2 separate regions of the Homo sapiens genome follow, and region 2 is linked to region 1. Evidence: fine-mapped expression QTL. Tissue or cell type: whole blood. Region 1 holds a variant in brackets; the other region holds the start of a gene. All regions are shown on one strand. Distances are between the middles of the regions.

The links. PIP is the estimated chance that this variant, and not a neighbour inherited with it, causes the effect.
Region 2: it holds the start of SLC67A1, and the variant in region 1 is fine-mapped to the expression of SLC67A1 in whole blood (INTERVAL, PIP 0.98).

What each region holds. Positions count from the first base shown.
Region 1 is chr11:2,826,734-2,834,733 of GRCh38, reverse strand. The region is part of intron 15 of KCNQ1 (potassium voltage-gated channel subfamily Q member 1); the gene reads right to left. Among named protein-coding and RNA genes, the nearest start is that of KCNQ1-AS1, 31 kb to the left of the region's middle. RefSeq lists an enhancer at 6,269-7,169. The variant G/C (reference allele first, on the strand shown) is at 3,217.
Region 2 is chr11:2,898,414-2,906,413 of GRCh38, reverse strand. SLC67A1 (solute carrier family 67 member 1) reads right to left here and starts at 4,136. Exons shown (of 11, transcript NM_002555.6): 1 at 4,050-4,136; 2 at 2,925-3,200. The coding sequence starts at 3,068. It overlaps SLC67A1-AS (SLC67A1 antisense RNA), which reads left to right and starts at 2,839. Exons shown (of 3, transcript NR_169305.1): 1 at 2,839-2,955; 2 at 3,705-3,830. RefSeq lists an enhancer at 2,448-2,949 and a silencer at 3,875-4,004.

The DNA of each region.
Region 1 (8,000 bases):
GGGTGTCTCCCCAACTCTCAGACATAAGGACACCCTTCCAAGCTTGTTCCTTCACCTGGCGGGGCCCTGAGCCCCACACCCCTCCCCTGTCCTTTCTCCATCCGACATCAAGCGCCTCCCTGCCTCTGCTCGCACAGTCTCTGAGATGGGGAACTCAGCACCTCACAGGTGGGCCCAGCTCTGGTGCTGTCTGTGTTGGGGGAGCTGGGGCAGCCCCCAAAAGACCTTGGAGACAGACCCTCAGAGGCAGGAGCAGAGGCTGGCAGTGGATGCTGTGCCTGGAGGCCTTGAGGGCGAGGTGTGATGATGAGGCCCAGGCTGCAGGGCTCTTTCTGGCTCTCCAGCTCCGGAGAACAAGGGATTTCCTCCTGCTCTGCCCACCCTCCCCAGCCAGTGCATGCTCAGCCTCAGCACCGCACCTGGGCGCCCTCCATGATCTGCCCCACCTGGACACATGGCTCGAGGGGCACACTACCATGCCATACACCATGTCACGCACCTTGCCACTCCACATGCTACACAACCCAGCCCCAGCCCCAGCCATGCCATGTGCCACACCATGTGCCACACCACTCCCACCATGCCACCACCATGCCATGCACACAGCCACGCCAGGCACAGCAGGCGCTGAGCCCATCCTGCACGAATGCAGCAGTGTGTGTGTGTAAGGGGACCTAAGCCTCTGCCCATGTCCTCCCGGGAGCCAGCCCCTGGCTGCACTCCTTGTGGCTAAGTGGGGTTCTGCTGCCCCCCAGCCCCTGCTGACAGCCTGGGAAGGGGGTGAGGAGGTGGGGGAGCAGGCTGGGAGGGCAGGAAGTTGCTGGGGCTCCAGCCCCATCTGGACATATTTGGCAAGCCCCGCTCCCCGCCGCTCCTCAGCCTGTCGGAACGGCCCCTGGCGCTGGTGCTGGACACTCTGGCCTTCCCCCAGCTGCCTGTCCCACCTTCCCCACTGTTGTCTCGGTCCCGTCTCGGGGCACTTGCCCCAGTTCCTGCTGCTGGGCCCAGTGGACTGCACGGTCACAGCCAGGTGCAAACATGGGACCTGGTGTTTGCTCACCTCTCTGAACCTCCATTTTGCCTCTGCAAGACAGGGGCTGCAAATGGAGTGAAGCGGGGAAGCCTGCCCACCCCAGGAACCCAGCCTCTTGCCTCCCAGTGACACGGTTGCTGGCGGGGCAGCAGTGGGGATGCTCGGGGACCCCTGCCCTTGAGGCTGGCTCCCAGGTCCACGTGCCTGGGGCTGACTTGGGGCCTGACAGCTGCGCCCAGGTGCCCACCCTAAGGCTGAGACTCCCTCACATCTATGCAGTCTTCACAGAGGTCCCAAGGGGCTCTGGGATCCTATGAGGGGAGAAGCTTGGAGAGGGGTGGGGCATGTGGGCAGGTGGGGGGAGGACTCGGCTCCAGGGCACTGGCCCGGCTTGGCTGCCCTGACTCTGCCATTGTGTCCAGAAGTCCACAGGCCTCCCGTCCCTCAGGGAAGCAAGAAGGGGCTATGTCCTCTGCCCTGGCGCGTGGGCCCCTTGCGTGCAGGGGCTTCCACAGGGCCTCTAATTGCCTCGACTCCAGAGGCACACAGGCACCCCTACCCAGCATGTTCTCCCACACCCACAGCCTCCTAGCTGTGGGATAACCATGGACGATGCTGCCAACCTCTTATCCCCTGGTCTGGTGGGCAGTCCTTGGGCACCAGCCTGCCCTGAGCAGGGAACAGCAGCTGCATTGCCCACATCTGTCTCCCACTGGGAGGAGGCTAGTGTCCAGGTCACTCTGGGGGAGAGGGGAGGGACCAGGTCAAAGTGGGAGAGTGGAGTGAAGCCCCCTGAGCTGGGCATGGCTTCTGCCCCATGGAGCCCTGGCCAGGCCCTGTGGACCACGGCGGTGGCAGCCACCTTCCCCACACCCTACAGTTGTCACCTGGGGCAGCCCCAGCCAGACCATGGTCTCCTCCTGCCTTGGGGAGCATCAGCCCCAGCCTTGCCTTTCACCCCACAGCTGGGCCGCTCAGTGATGCCATCAGCAACCTTCTCCACACAGGCCCTACCGGGAGCTACAGAGGGAACATGCTCCGGGGAGGCGGGCAGACCTGAGGAGGGCTTCCTGCTGCAACTGTGGTCTCCCAGGCAGCAGGGTGCTTGGCGCTTTGCCTGCACTGGCTCTCCTGACCCTGCCAAGGCCCTGGGCATGGGCGGGGACTGCGTCCCATCTCCCTGATCTTGCAGTAGGGGAAGGTGAGTTGTGGAGTCGCAGAGCCCGTCTGAGCGAGCAGCTTGTGGGTATCCTGGTTCCTCTTGCTCCCCATGACCCTGTGCGGTCGGAGCTCTGACGGCCCCACTCCCAGGAGGGGACACAGGCACCCTGTCCTAGTCTCCCAGCCCGGAAGCCCCCACCCTGCCAGGTCCCGCACAGGCATCTGAGCCTTCAAGTCCCTCATCTAGTTCAGCCCTCTGGTACCTCCATTTGCAGGGCCAGGTCCAAGGCTTCTCTAACGCTGCCCATCTGCCAAGATGCCGGGCAACCCCCACTGTGCCTGAGGGGCCAGGCCTTCCCTCAGGGGTGCTGGGAAAGGGTAGGGTGGGGACCGGGCTGGTGTGTGTCCTGGGGACAATGAAGCTATCACCTGTCAGGAAGGCTGGGGGTAGTCTAGGCAGTTGTCCCAGGTCCTAAGCCTGAGGCCCAGCTGTCCACCTGCAGGGCTGCCTGGAGGTGGAGGTCTGCCTGGGCCTCAGGCCACCCCCCTGGAGCAGAGGCTCCTGGTACACGGGCAGGGCCTCCTTTCCAGCTTCCTACCAGGGGCATGTCCAGCTCAGGCCACTGCAAGACCATGTGCCAGGGGCTGAGTCAGGCATATCCCATGGACCCTGGACAGGTGAGACTCTTGAGGCTCAGAGAAGTGAAATCACTGGGGGTCATGGAGTGGCCACTTCCTCGCTGTACCTAGCCTTCCAGGGCTCTGGTGGGGGAGGGAGGAGGGGGCAACGGAGAGAGGCAGAGGAGGGCAGCGGGGAGGGGAGGGGAGGGCAGCGGGGAGAAGGGTGCTGGAGGAAGGAGGGGAGCAGTGGTGGGGAAGGGGAAAGGGGAGGAGGGGCAATGTGGAAGGAAGCGGGGGAGAGAGGAGCGGAGGGGACACTATGGTTGTGGCCATCCAGGACATCAAGAGGAAACTGACTGAAGTCTAGAGAAGGATCAGGAATAGATCTGGGCCTAAGGGTG[G/C]TGGTTCAGGGCACAGAGTACCAGAGGGACCCAGAGACCTGGAGAGCTTCTTGTGTCTCCACAGTCAGGGAGGGCTTCCTGGAGGCAGAAGCACCTTCGACAGCCCCACAGTGTTCCAGGCCTACAAGGCATTCACCCCTTCTCTCCCCTGTTCATGGGTTATTTCCAGCCGCCACTGGTCCAAGCACCCCCTGATGGTGTAGGGCAGGCCGGGCCACATACTTCTTCTCATGGCCCAACTGTGGGCACAGGCACCCATCACGTCTGCTGAGGTGCCTCCTCAGGGACATCCTGCCCTGCACCCGATGGCCATCCCTGTAGCAGCTGCTGCTGATCACAGAGCACCTGTCATTCTGAGAACATCCCATTGATCGCCGCCTTTGGCTTCACAGCCATACTGGGAAGCAGGCAGGGCTGCCCTCTGCATGCCAGAGGCCAGAAAATGGGGCGCAGAGAGCATGGGCAGCTTCCCTCAGGGGGCCCATTGGGCGGGTGCTGGGGTGGGGCTGAGCACCCAGACCAGCTGCCTCTCATCATCACCACTTCCCTGTCCTGCCTTGACAAGACCTGCACGGGGTCTCCCAAGGGTACCCTTGCGGTTTCAAAGACTCCCTGGTCAGCTCCTAACCCTGCATTTTCCTGACAGGAAAGCTGAGGCCTAGAGAGGGGTTGGGCCAGCCTGTGCTGGGTTACCTGATGATGGGGAGAGGGGAAGGCCCAGGTGTGTGGCTCTGTGGCCAGGGTGCTGGAGGGCACACACGTGGGGTGCCCTTGGGAGGTCAGAGGTCTGAGGGCCACGGAGATGTGGGGGTTCCTGGGAAGGCCCACAATGCTCGGAAGGTGAGTGGAAGGGTGGGAAGGTCTCCACCCAGGAAGGAGGTCCTGGGCTGGCCCCCAGCCTGCCTGGCCCAGGCTGACCCTGTGAGTTGATGAGAGATTCAGGCCCCATCCTGCAGCTCCCAGCCCGCCCTTCCTGCTCCCGGGGCTGGAGGAAGAGGTTCTTGGGACACTGGGACTGGGGTGTGGGGATACATGCTGACTAGACTGGGTGTGGTTTGCAGGCCATTGGGAGGACCTAGGTCCTTTAACAGGGGACTTAACAGGGACTTAGATCCCGGGGCCTTGGAGATCATCTAAGATATCATTCAGGTCATAGCTCTGGGATGCCTGCCCAGGGAAGAGCCCAGATCCCTCTGTCAACCCTTGCTAAAGGTGGGGAGGAGGCACCCACCAGTGAGTCCTCTTCTCTCACTGGCCTTATCCTGCACAGCCCCAGCCCCAGCTAGTCAGAGGGCTCCTGCGTAGCACCCAGCCAGTCCTGAGCCTGTGCCCACGGTGTAAAGGGCCTGCTGGTCTTTCCCCTTCACCACACACCTGCTGTTCCCAGCCAGGGTGGCATGCACCCACCTTCCCCTCTCAGAGCTCCTTGGCCAATCTCTTCCTTCTCTCTCTTCCTCCCTCCTCCCTCCTCCTTCCTCCTCCCTCCTCCTTCCTCCTCCTTCCTCCTCCTTCCTCCTCCCTCTTCCTTCCTCCTCCCTCCTCCTTCCTTCTCATCCTCCTCCCCCTCCCCCTCCCCCTCCCCACCAGGGTATTGGCAGAATTCCCTATTCTCTGGCACCATCACTTCCTTCTTAAATTTTCTTACCCTTAGTGAGAAAACCCGTGAAGCTCTCCCATCTTTAAACAGCCTTCCCTGGGCGCTAGATCTTCTATCTCTAATTTCTGTTCCCAGAGGCAGCCCTTCAACCCTACCGACTATCTCTTGGCTTTACCTTGGCATTTCCAAACTACACATTTACATTGCTGTTCCTTGAAATTTTGTCACTTTAGACATTATCTAGTGACTGCCTAACATGGAAGAGAAGTGATCAAGATTTTGTTCTCATGCCCCTGCCCTCCCCACTCCCTTATCTTTCCAACACAGTTAAATTAGAATTCTAGGCTAAATAAGTACTTACTGTTTGCATTTTACACAAACAGTATATAACTCTTTATGTCACTATGTAATCACTGTTTTTAGCTGTGTCCTGTGGTCTGTTATGATTACATCTTCTTGTTTTCCCTTGGGTTACAAATGGCCTTAGGTTTTGCTTGTTTTTTACTGCATCTGTCACTAATTCATTCTTGAACTTTCTGTAAGAATTGTAAAACTTCTTTCATCCTATTGAGAATACTGGCAGTCTATCACCTTCATTTTTTTTTTCTTCTGGGATTTCTTCCTGGAGTCTTAGCAGGACTGTTTGCACTGTAGGCATGCTGAGCAGCTGTAATGCTAGAACTTCTTTCACTCATGTTGAAAATTCTCTTGGCCTTTTGTTTTTGGTGTTGGAGTCTCCCTGGTTCTTGAATTGTGTTTCTCTTTCTTTGTTTTTTCCTCTCATTTTGCTAGAGCACGTCCTCAAGTAACTTTCTGAGAAAAGGCATGTGGTAGATACAATTTTTGACTGTGCATGTTTGGAAATGTCTTTATTCTATTCTCATACCTGAGAGTTTGACTAGGTATAGAATTCTGGATGGGAAATCATTTTTTCCCTCAGATGTTTGAAGGCATTTCTCTACTATGTGCTAGCTTTCTGAATTGCTGTTAAGAAATTGGATACCGTTTTGATTTTCTATTCTCTTGTGTGTGACTTACTTTTTCTCTCTGGAAATGTGGAGTGTCTGCTTTATTGCTGGTGTTCTGAAAACAATGGTGTGCCCCACCGGGCATTCTGGGAGTTGATGAGGGAAGTGGGGGAGGAGGTCTTCCTTTTTAGCTTGAATGCATTTACTGAATCCCTGTTGTTTTCATCACGAGAGCTCCTGCCCCACCCACAACTGCTCCTGGTGGCTCCAAGTTCAGAACCTCTCAGGCTCAGCTTTTCTGGAGACTCAACCTGTCTCTAGCTGAGCTTGAGAATCAGTAGCATCTGGCTTCATGGGCTGGGGTGAGACCTGCCTGTCAGGGTCCTGGGTTGGGAACTGCCTCATTCTTGGTGGCTCTTCTTCCTGCAGGGCTTGGTGTCTACCCTCTCCAGTCTCCTAGGCCAGTCTCCATCTGTCCTCCTGCTTCCCAGCTTCCAAACCTTTGTCAACATATTTTTGGTCTCCTCTTTTCTCCTGACCACTTTACCCTAGTTGATTTACATGTTTCCATGTTTTTCATGCCTTTACTGTCACCTTAGTGGGATTCAAAGAAGCTGAAATAGACATGTGTTTACCCATCACGTTTAACCAGTGCTTTCAGCTCTGGCACCTGCTGCTCCGGTCACCAAACCTTCCAGCAGCCCCCTGACGACACCATCTCCTGTCCTGACTTCTCAGAGTTTTCTTCTTGGGTGCTAGTCCCTGCCTGCTGAGGTCCTCCAGCTCCCAGGAGCCATGTTCCCATGGGTGCCTTTCTGCACGTGGCTGCCTCCTCTGAGTCCCGGCTGTGGCCCCTTCCCTGCTGGCTCCTGTGTGGTGCTGCCAGCCTTTGTCCTGCCCTCGCCCCTTTGCAGGTAGTGTTCCCTCTGTTGCTGGCCTCCCCACATTCGAGCTTTCAAGACCTCTATGTGCCCGGTGGTGCCTGGCTTGGACTCAGGGCCAACACCACCATAGGGTTCCCGGCCCCTGACCTCACCACTTCCATGTCTCAGAGGCATCTTGAATTCGACACACCCCAAACAAAGCTCTCGCTGCCTTCTGCCCGCCCCTTCCTCTTCATTCCGGAAAACAGTACCACCACATACCTGCTACTTACACCCTGGCCTGAGCCGCTGAAGTGTACCCCCATTTCCTCCCTCAAGCGCCCAACTCCTATCTGAGTCCTTCTGGTCTGGCCTCCAAGCCACATGTGGAATTTTCCCTCTGGCAAAACAGCCACTTGTCTCCATAGCCGCTCTCCCCCGCCCCCCCGACCCCACTTTTTTTTTTTAATCAACAGAACCCTGAATTAAGCTGAGTGTTTGCCTGCCTGGAATAGAGACTCCGTCCCCAGGGGCCCTTGCAGCGACTCAGGCGTGCGTCACATTCCGGCGGGTGGACAGAAAGGGGGATGACGTGGGCCGCTTCTGTGTAGGGTTTTACAGGAGTGGGGCCTGTCCTTCATGTCTTTTACCTCCCTCCTGCTGCTGGAATGCAGATGTGATGGTGAATGCAGGAGCAGCCGCTGGGGACCATAGGACAGAAGCACTGGATTGTGGACAGGAAAGCAAGCAGAGAGAGGAGGTCTGGGGCCAGGCTGATTCACCAGGCACACATCAGCCCTGAAGCTTCTGCTACTCTGGGACCCTGCGGGTGGCAAAGTTCTCTCTTATTTGGGCTGTCCCCAGGGTCACTGTCTCAGCAGCAGCTGAACCAAGAACCTCCCCTTCTCCCACCTGCCCTGACTCTGGTCCCTTATCTCCTACCTGGGGGACAGCAACACGAGGTGACTGTGCCTGGCCTCCTCTCTGCAGCCCAGCCTGTTCCCCTCCCGGCTCTGTGACATCTAAGCACATCACCTCTGAGCTTCAGGCTGAAGCCCTCCTGTGGCTTGTGAGTGACTGAAAATGACTCCAAACTCCTTAGAGGACTGCTCCGATGTCACCTCCTTGGAGATGTCCCCTTCCCCACCTACTCCACGGCTCATGGGCCACCTGCCTGGCTTTCTTCCTCCCTGTCCTTGTCACTCCAGGACCAGACACCCCACACCCAGTGGTTTACAGGCTGCTGGCCTGTGTGTCTCTCTGGCTGTGAGCATATGGGGAAGTGGTTAGTGTGTCTCCCCAGCACCCAGCATGGCTCCAAGCACATAGTGGGATTCTGAGTGGAGGCAGGGCAGG
Region 2 (8,000 bases), 72 kb before region 1:
ATGTGTCTTTATAGTAGCATGATTTATAATCCTTTGGGTATATACCCAGTAATGGGATCGCTGGGTCAAATGGTATTTCTAGTTCTAGATCCTTGAAGAATCGCCACATGTCTTCCACAATGGTTGAACTAGTTTACAGTCCCACCAACAGTGTAAAAGTGTTCCTATTTCTCCACGTCCTCTCCAGCATCTGTTGTTTCCTGACTTTTTCATGATCGCCATTCTAACTGGTGTGAGATGGTATCTCATTGTGGTTTTGACTTGCATTTCTCTGATGACCAGTGATGATGAGCATTTTCTCATGTGTCTGTTGGCTGCATAAAGGTCTTCTTTTGAGAAGTGTCTGTTCATAGAGGATGCTGAGTTTCTCATCCCCAAGCCTGCCCACCTGTCCTCGCCTACCCAAGTCATCCTCCCTGCCTGCGTCACATCCCAACCTTTTGCCTCCTCAAGGGCAGGGCTCCCAATGTTCCTCTCTCCGTTTCTCTGCACAGTCCCCTTCTGTGGGGGCACCCACTGGACCAAGCTCCCAGTGCTCCTCTCTCCCCGTTTCTCTGCACAATCCCCTTTTGAGGGGGTGGCAATGGAGCATGCTCACATCCTGTTACTTCTCTTGCGTTCTCTTGACCCTCCCCTACAGCTACTCCCACATATTTGAGGGCGGAGCTCTGAGCAGCTGCCTCACCTTGCAGCCTCCTCTCTTTCCATCTCTTTCCTTCTCTCCCAGCCCTCGGAGCAGGCCCCAGGGGACTATACTATAAAGACACATGCACACGTATTTTTATCGCGGCACTGTTTACAATAGCAAAGACTTGGAACCAACCCAAATGTCCATCAATGACAGACTGGATTAAGAAAATGTGGCACATATAAACCATGGAATACTATGCAGCCATAAAAAAGGATGAGTTCATGTGCTTTGTACATGGATGAAGCTGGAAACCTTCATTCTGAGCAAACTATTGCAAGGACAAAAAACCTCCTGCTGTCTCCCCTCTCCCTGAGGTCCCCATTGACCCCACACTGCTGCCTCCAGTGGTCCGCTTTGGCAGGCCTCCCACTGGAGTGACAGTTGCCTTCGTGGCTTCTTCCCTCCTCCACGATGGTCTGCTGCTCTGGGCTGTGCTGGGTCCTTTGCCCCTCCTCCATCACCACTGCCAGTTCCCCCAGCTCATCCGACCTCCAGCCTCCCTGCCCTCTGGGGGAGCCCAGCCCATGACCGTCTCCATGCTGCAGGGCCCCAGAGCCTCTGTGCTGAACTGCCTTGTGTCCAGCTCCCTTCGGCTCTCCACTGGGGTCGAAAATCGTCTCAAACTCAACCCGTCCCCAACTGGGCTCCCATCTTTCCCTCTCCTCCTGTCCATGCCTCCTTCCTTATGGGCTCAGGCCCAGATCTTCAGTGCTCCCTGAGCCCTGCTTTCTCTCACACCCACTACAGTCCATTGACAACACATGCAAAATCCAGCCACCTCTCACCTCCTCCACAGCCATCACCAGCCCGGAGTTCTTTGAGCAGCAGGTGGGGTGTGGTCCCATTCTGGCCTCAACCGGTCCACTCTAGCCACTCTGCTCTCTCCACTGCCCCGGGGCCTCTCCTGCTTCCTTCCAGCCCTGCTCCAAGGTTGCCTTCTCTATGAGGAAGACCTCGCCCCCTTCCCACTGCAGCCCCTGTGCGTGTGGACCCCCAGCTCCGAGGGAGTGGGCTGTTGAGGATTTTTACACTCTGCAATATTTCAGGTTCTGACATCAGGGTCAGCTCCTGGGCACTCAGCACGGAGTTACTCCCCATGAGAGTCGATGGGTGGCTGAAGCCACTCCACCTGTGCTCTGTGCCCAGCTGTGGGAAGGGTTCTGACTTCTCATTCACTCTTCCCCGCACCAATCCTACAGGGAGGGACTGTTATTACCCATTTTATGATGAGAAAAGCAAGGCTCCTGCCCAGCCTTCCCCACGGGTAGGGAGGAGATTCAGGGCTTGGCCCCAGCCATTTAGCAGGAGTGGGCGGGGCGCCTGAGGCACGGCGGGGAGGGATCCTTAGGCTCACCCTCGGGCTGGGAGCCTCTGCCAGGCCCGGAATGGTGCCAAAGGCCCATCCCCACTCCCGCCTAGATGCCCAGGTCCAGGCTCTGAGGGCTGAGAGGAGGAGGGCAGCTGTCTGAGCCCACGCACGCCGGGCTTCCCAGAAGCAAACACAGGAAGGGCCGAGGTTGGCCCTGACTCTGCCTGAGCTTCTTGGTGATGTGAGACTTTGTTCCCAAGCCTCTCCAGACTTGGTGAATATAATTTAATCATTACTATTACAGCTTCCAGAGCCACACACTGTGGTATAGACTACTGAATGATACACTAAACTAACATGAATTTGCCAATGAAATGTTTCCGCATTTGGCAACAGAGATAATAAAATAAGACAGCATTCTATCTCTTGCAAGAAAAAGCTTGAGATCAATTTGCCGCCACAGATCATTTAGTGGACAACAAGGACCCAAGAAGATGGAGGGGAGAGATAGAAGCTGCGGGCAGGTGCAAGGAGAGCCTCTCTGAGGGGTGATCCGCCCAGAGCCACACCGGATTGAACAGCCCTTGGGGCAGGGACTCCAGAGGGCAAAGGCTGCCGGGTGAGAGGCAGGAGGAACAGCGCTAGGAAGGTTTGAGGAGGTGCTGCCCCCAGGAGGGAAGTGGGGTGGCTCCCCATGGCTTCTCCCGGGGCTGGCACTGAAGCTGGAGCACAGGATGTGCTGACGGGGGTCCAGAGGCAGAGTCCTTAACTTACTCAGCTTAAGCGTGGCATGAGTCCCAACTGGGAGGGGCCCTGGCAGCATGAAACCCCCACCCCCACTCTCTGCGACGGCCCAGATGGAGGGCAGGAGGAACAGCGGTTCAGCCCTGGCTGGGGCTGCAGGGGCTGGGGTGTGTTACTCACTGGCACGATGGAGAACTGCATGAAGAGGCAGGTAAGTTCTGTGGCGGCCAGCACGTAGGTAAGCAAGATGACCGAGGACCGGCCTAGAGCGCTCATCCTGCCGGGGGACCGGCCCTGGTCCCTGGGAGCCCGAGCTCCCTGCATCCTGGACAGGCGCAGCAGGGAGACCCAGGAGAGATCCAAGCAGGAGGCTGGCGGAGCAGGGGGCAAAAGTCCAGTTGATCCGGGCAGGGGTGCTGAGTCACTGGGTCCCAGGCAGCACCCGCCTGGCCTTGCCTGCAAGAGAGGACAGCACTGCAGGACCCCCTCCCCAGTGGAGCTCTCCTGCTACCTGGACCTTAGAGGACACATCAGGGGGTCCCCCTCCTCCACTTTTGACAGCTCTGGTCTCCAGGCACACAGCCTCCCGGGGAGGGGAGACAGGGACAAGCTGCTCCCCCCGACCCCTGCAGGTGGGCCAGGCTCAGTGCCTGGTTGCCTGACACAGGAATGTGCCATGCCCCACTTTTAGAGGGAGGCAGAGGCTCGGAGTGGTGGCTGAGTCCACCTCAAATCATCAGCGCCTTCTGTGGCCAGAGGGCTGATGTGGGTCCCTGTGCCTGGAGGCCCTCCGTAGGCCCACAGTGGCCCTGTCCCCAACACAGTGCAGCTCTCAGGGAAGGTCTACCTTCCCCTGTGGCCAGCAGCCAGAGCTCCAAGGGGCTTCTGGAATGGTCTTGCGTAGGGGAGACATAGCTCAGCCTTCCAGGCTCCCCAGTAGCTCTGCCTTACCTCCCACAGCGGAGTGCTGTCTGTCCCCACCCTTCCCCGCCCGGCCTCCAACTGGTGGGAACTGGATTTTGCGGCTGCAGAGGACTTCCCCAAATTTTGCCACATTAACAGCTGACTGCACATCTGAGCCCCGAGGTACCGAACCCAGGCTGGTGGGGTAGGGCGGGGAGACCCCTGAGGGTCCGGGAGCTGCGCCTGGCGCCCTCCCCCATCCCGGGATGCAGGGAGGCTGGGGGGAGCAGGGCAGCCGCAGCAGGCACGTCAGGGGCACCTCATTGGGCAGAGGTGCGACGCTGCGCCGGAGTTCGGGGTTCGGGGCTCAGAGGCCGCCCTCTCCGGAGTGTGCTCGAGTACCTGCCTTTGCAGGGGCGGGCTTGGGCACGGGTGCCGGTGGGGTGAGCGCTCCAGGGTGACCTAGACACCGGTCCTTCCGGGATGAGCCCCGGCCCCGCCCTTTCGGGAGATGACTTGCAACAGGGACCGCCCCTCTGGGTCTGAGTTCCAGCCCTCGCGCTTTGCAATCGCCAGTTCCGGGAGCGCCCGTGCCACGGTTTCTGCGCTCTCACTGGCCGAGCCCGCCCCTCCCCTCGAAGGACCCGCCCCTGCCCCGCCCACCAGCGGGCTCGCCCCGTGCCCGGCTTCGCCCGCCCCAGCCCCCTCCAGCTTGAATCCTGCCCGGTGCCCGGGCTGCTGGAGGTGGACACTCTGACCCTCAGGCAGCACCGGTGTCCACTTTGGGCCTGAGGAGGGGCAGTGTGGGCAGGGGATGGGACCGGGAGGTGGAGGGAAGGAGAGAATGGAGGGGAGGCAGGGGCGGGGAGAGAAAAGCGGAGGAATGGTGGTGAGGGGTTAGGGGAAGAAGTCAGGGGAGGTTGTAGAGGGTGTGGTGTAGCCTGGCCCTGCCAAAGGTCTGCACAGAGCCCCAGAAGAGTGACCAGGAGACAGCTCTGGGCCCCTCCTCACTTCCCTCCCCAGACCCGGAGGCTGCTAGGAGCAGTTGAGAGCCCACTTTTCCCCATTTCACCCTGCCTGCCACTTCCCCACCCTTGCAGGGGCCACCAGAGATGCCAGCACACAGGTAAACAAGCCTCATGCCGCCCTCCGCAGCAGGAGCCGCTGGAGCACACACACCCCACGCTGCGCACACTTGGCCCAAGCCCTGCCCTTGGCCTGGGCACCATTCTCCGTGCCCCTGACTGTCACTAAGTAGGGAGATGCTCATTCAGGACTCCTGCCCCACCTCCTCCCCAGGCAAGGGCTGGGCACAGGCTCAAATGTCAAAACCAGTGTCCCCCTGCCATGTGTCAATCATCGCTCCACAGAGCAGAAAACTGCAGGGGTGAGACAGGGTGGGACGGACATCGCAGAGGCGAGCGAGAGCCGGCCAAAGTCCTGGTGGGCAGGGGGGCCAGAGCCAGGTGGCCCAAGGCCGGCTGGCTAAGCCATTCCAAGTCACCGTGGGAGTGGTTCAGCAGCTACCCTTCGTTCAGCAGCTCAGATATGTTGGGCATCAGAAAACAATACCCCAAAATGAAGGCCTCAGAAGCAGCTTCGGAAGAAAAAGTGTTTCTCTGACCTTCTCTTGCTCTCCTGTCTCTCAGTGCCATTTTCCCCGAAGCTGGCCTTAGAAACTGGAATCCATTTTCCCCAGGGCAGGTCATAGAAATCAGAACCCCGCCTTTCCACACAGCCAGACATCAAACCTAAAAATATTGCTCTAACTTTCCCTCCACCTTTGTGTTTAGAAGCTGGCCATAAATTATCTGACCTCTCTTGTTTGACTGTAGGGCATAAGACCCCATTCCAGGAGGGTCCTGCTCCATGCCCAGAAGGAAGGAATGCTGCTCAGAAAGTTCAAGAAATCTAGACCAACAGCCCTCGCTGCGCTTCCCCTTGCGGTCCAGGAGCATTAGTGCAGGTCCCTTGGTTCATCTGTGTTCCCGCATGGATGTCCATACTTTGTTGAGCCTAAGCATCAGAAATGGCAATTTCCCCCATATCTTTTTTTTTTTTTTTTTTTTTTTTTGAGACGGAGTCTTGCTCTGTCACCCAGGCTGAAGTGCAGTGGCGCGATCTCGGCTCGCTGCAAGCTCCGCCTCCCGGGTTCACGCCATTCTCCTGCCTCAGCCTCCCGAGTAGCTGGGACTACAGGCGCCCGCCACAGCCCCCGCTAATTTTTTTGTATTTTTAGTAGAGACGGAGTTTCACCGTGTTAGCCAGGATGGTCTCGATCTCCTGACCTCGTGATCCGCCCCCCCTCGGCCTCCCAAAGTGCTGGGATTACAGGCGTGAGCCACCGCGCCCAGCCTGTTTCCCCCATATCTTTGGGTCTTTGTTCTGAAAACTCCCATTCACACACGTCAATCAATTTGGGGACCAAATGCCTTTTGTCCAATCAATCTGCCCTCTGTGAGGTGGTTTCTTAGCAAGCCCACGGGTGCAGTGTACCGCTCGAGGGGATTCCAGCCCAAAGAGTGCAAACGTGTTTGCATCTGGAGTGCGTGTCCCCAGATCCTCTGCCAAGCTCGTTTTCAAGAATAGTCACCACTGGCCGCCCTGGGGACTTGGGGAGAGTGCAGTCAAGCCGAGAGCCCAGGTCCAGCCAGAGTTTCCTGGAAGGACTGCACAGAAAGGCCGGCTGTGTAAGGTGGGGGTGGGTGACAGGAGTCTCAGAGTGTCTTAGATTTGGGACTCCTGGGGGAGGATGGGCATCCACATGAACCCTTACTCAATGGGGCAGGTGTGAGGGACTGTCCCCAACAGGTTCCAGACGCCTCCTGGGTTCCCTGGGGAGGGCTTAGAGGATGAAGCGGCAGGAGGAGATGGGATGAGTTACCAAACTGCCCAGAGGTGTGCGAGGGAGGCTGAGGGTCCTCTGGCGCTGAGGTGTGGTGGAGATGCTGGAAACTTACCACTGTCTTCCTCCAGGTGAAGCAGGGCCTCAGGTAGCCAGGGAACTGGTTGAGCAGAGGAAATCGGAGAGACCTTTTTTTTTGTCATGAACAGGCTCAGTGTGAATGGGGGAACTTCCTGGTTCTGAGGGAATGTGGGAAAATTGCCCTTTAGGCTGGGTGAAGAAGAAAGCAAGTGGAACCCTGGCACCCCTGGACTTCCTCCTCCAGAGGAAGCGGCTTTGGTTGTGGGCCAGCGAGCCTGTGCGTCCCCAGCCCCAGGGCATTCACCGCTTCAGAGAAGCAAGGCGACAGTTCTGCCGGATGAGAGGATCCAGGCTGACTGGAGGAAGGAAGGGCTTTGGCTCATCTGGGCTCAGGTTTGGGAGAGGTGGCTTCTCAGAGGAGGTGATGCCTCAGCCAGTCTTAAAGGTGAGCACGGATTGTTTGGGTATGGGAAGGGCATCCTGGCTGAGAGAATAGCATAGATAACGGCTTAGAGGTGAGCCCAGGCTTGGAGTGTTCAGGAAGCTGAGCCACTGGAAGGGGCTGGGACCAAGGGTGTACAGTGGGGTGACGGGGCAGAAAGTGAGTCTAGAGAGAGGGGTGACCCTGGGAGCGCTGGGCAGGGACACAGCCAGACGTGCACTGAGAAGTATTGCTCTGAACACTGCATCCTGGAGGCTGGGACCTCTGAGGGGTCTCCCGAATGAGAGGAGGCCAGCTTCAGAGCTGACCCCTGCCTACACCACTGCCTGGACATTTGAAATGGCTTTGGGCCTATCTTAACCCGACACACATTTATTAAGCACCTACTGTGTGCATGCCCCATGCCAGCTGTTTGGGACGTCAGCTGGCAAAGCTGACCGCCTGGTGGTAGCTTGCATCATTAGAGTGCATGTGCAGGCTTCGGGGAGGCACATGATCCCGGGTCACCACAATGCCTAAGGAAATGACTCACTGCCTATGAGCACTTGAGTTCTTCCTGTGTGTGCAGTGGACGCCGCTGCAGGGTTCTGAGCCCCTTCTGTTCTCCAAGGAGCCTCTGGCTGATGTGCTGATGAGGGGTTGAGGGGAGGGGCAGTGCAGGAGGTCTCTGCTGTGGTCCAGATGAGAGGTGGTGTGGACTTGGATGGGGCATGGGGGGATTTGAGGGGCAGGTTTGGAACCTCCCTGGAAGGAGGCCTGACAGGCTTCCTGCTGGTTGGGGCCTGGGCTGAGAGGGCCAACTGAGGGGGCCTTCAGGTGCGGCTGGGGGCGACATGAGGGGAGGCAACCCTGCAGGTCCATCCACGGGAGGGGCCTGTGGGCCAGCAGAGAGGGCAGAGTGTGCAGTGTGCAGTTTGCGGCATGTGGTCTGAGCTGGACGTGAGGGTGTCATTGACACTCATGTCCTGTTTAGAGCTCCCACCCT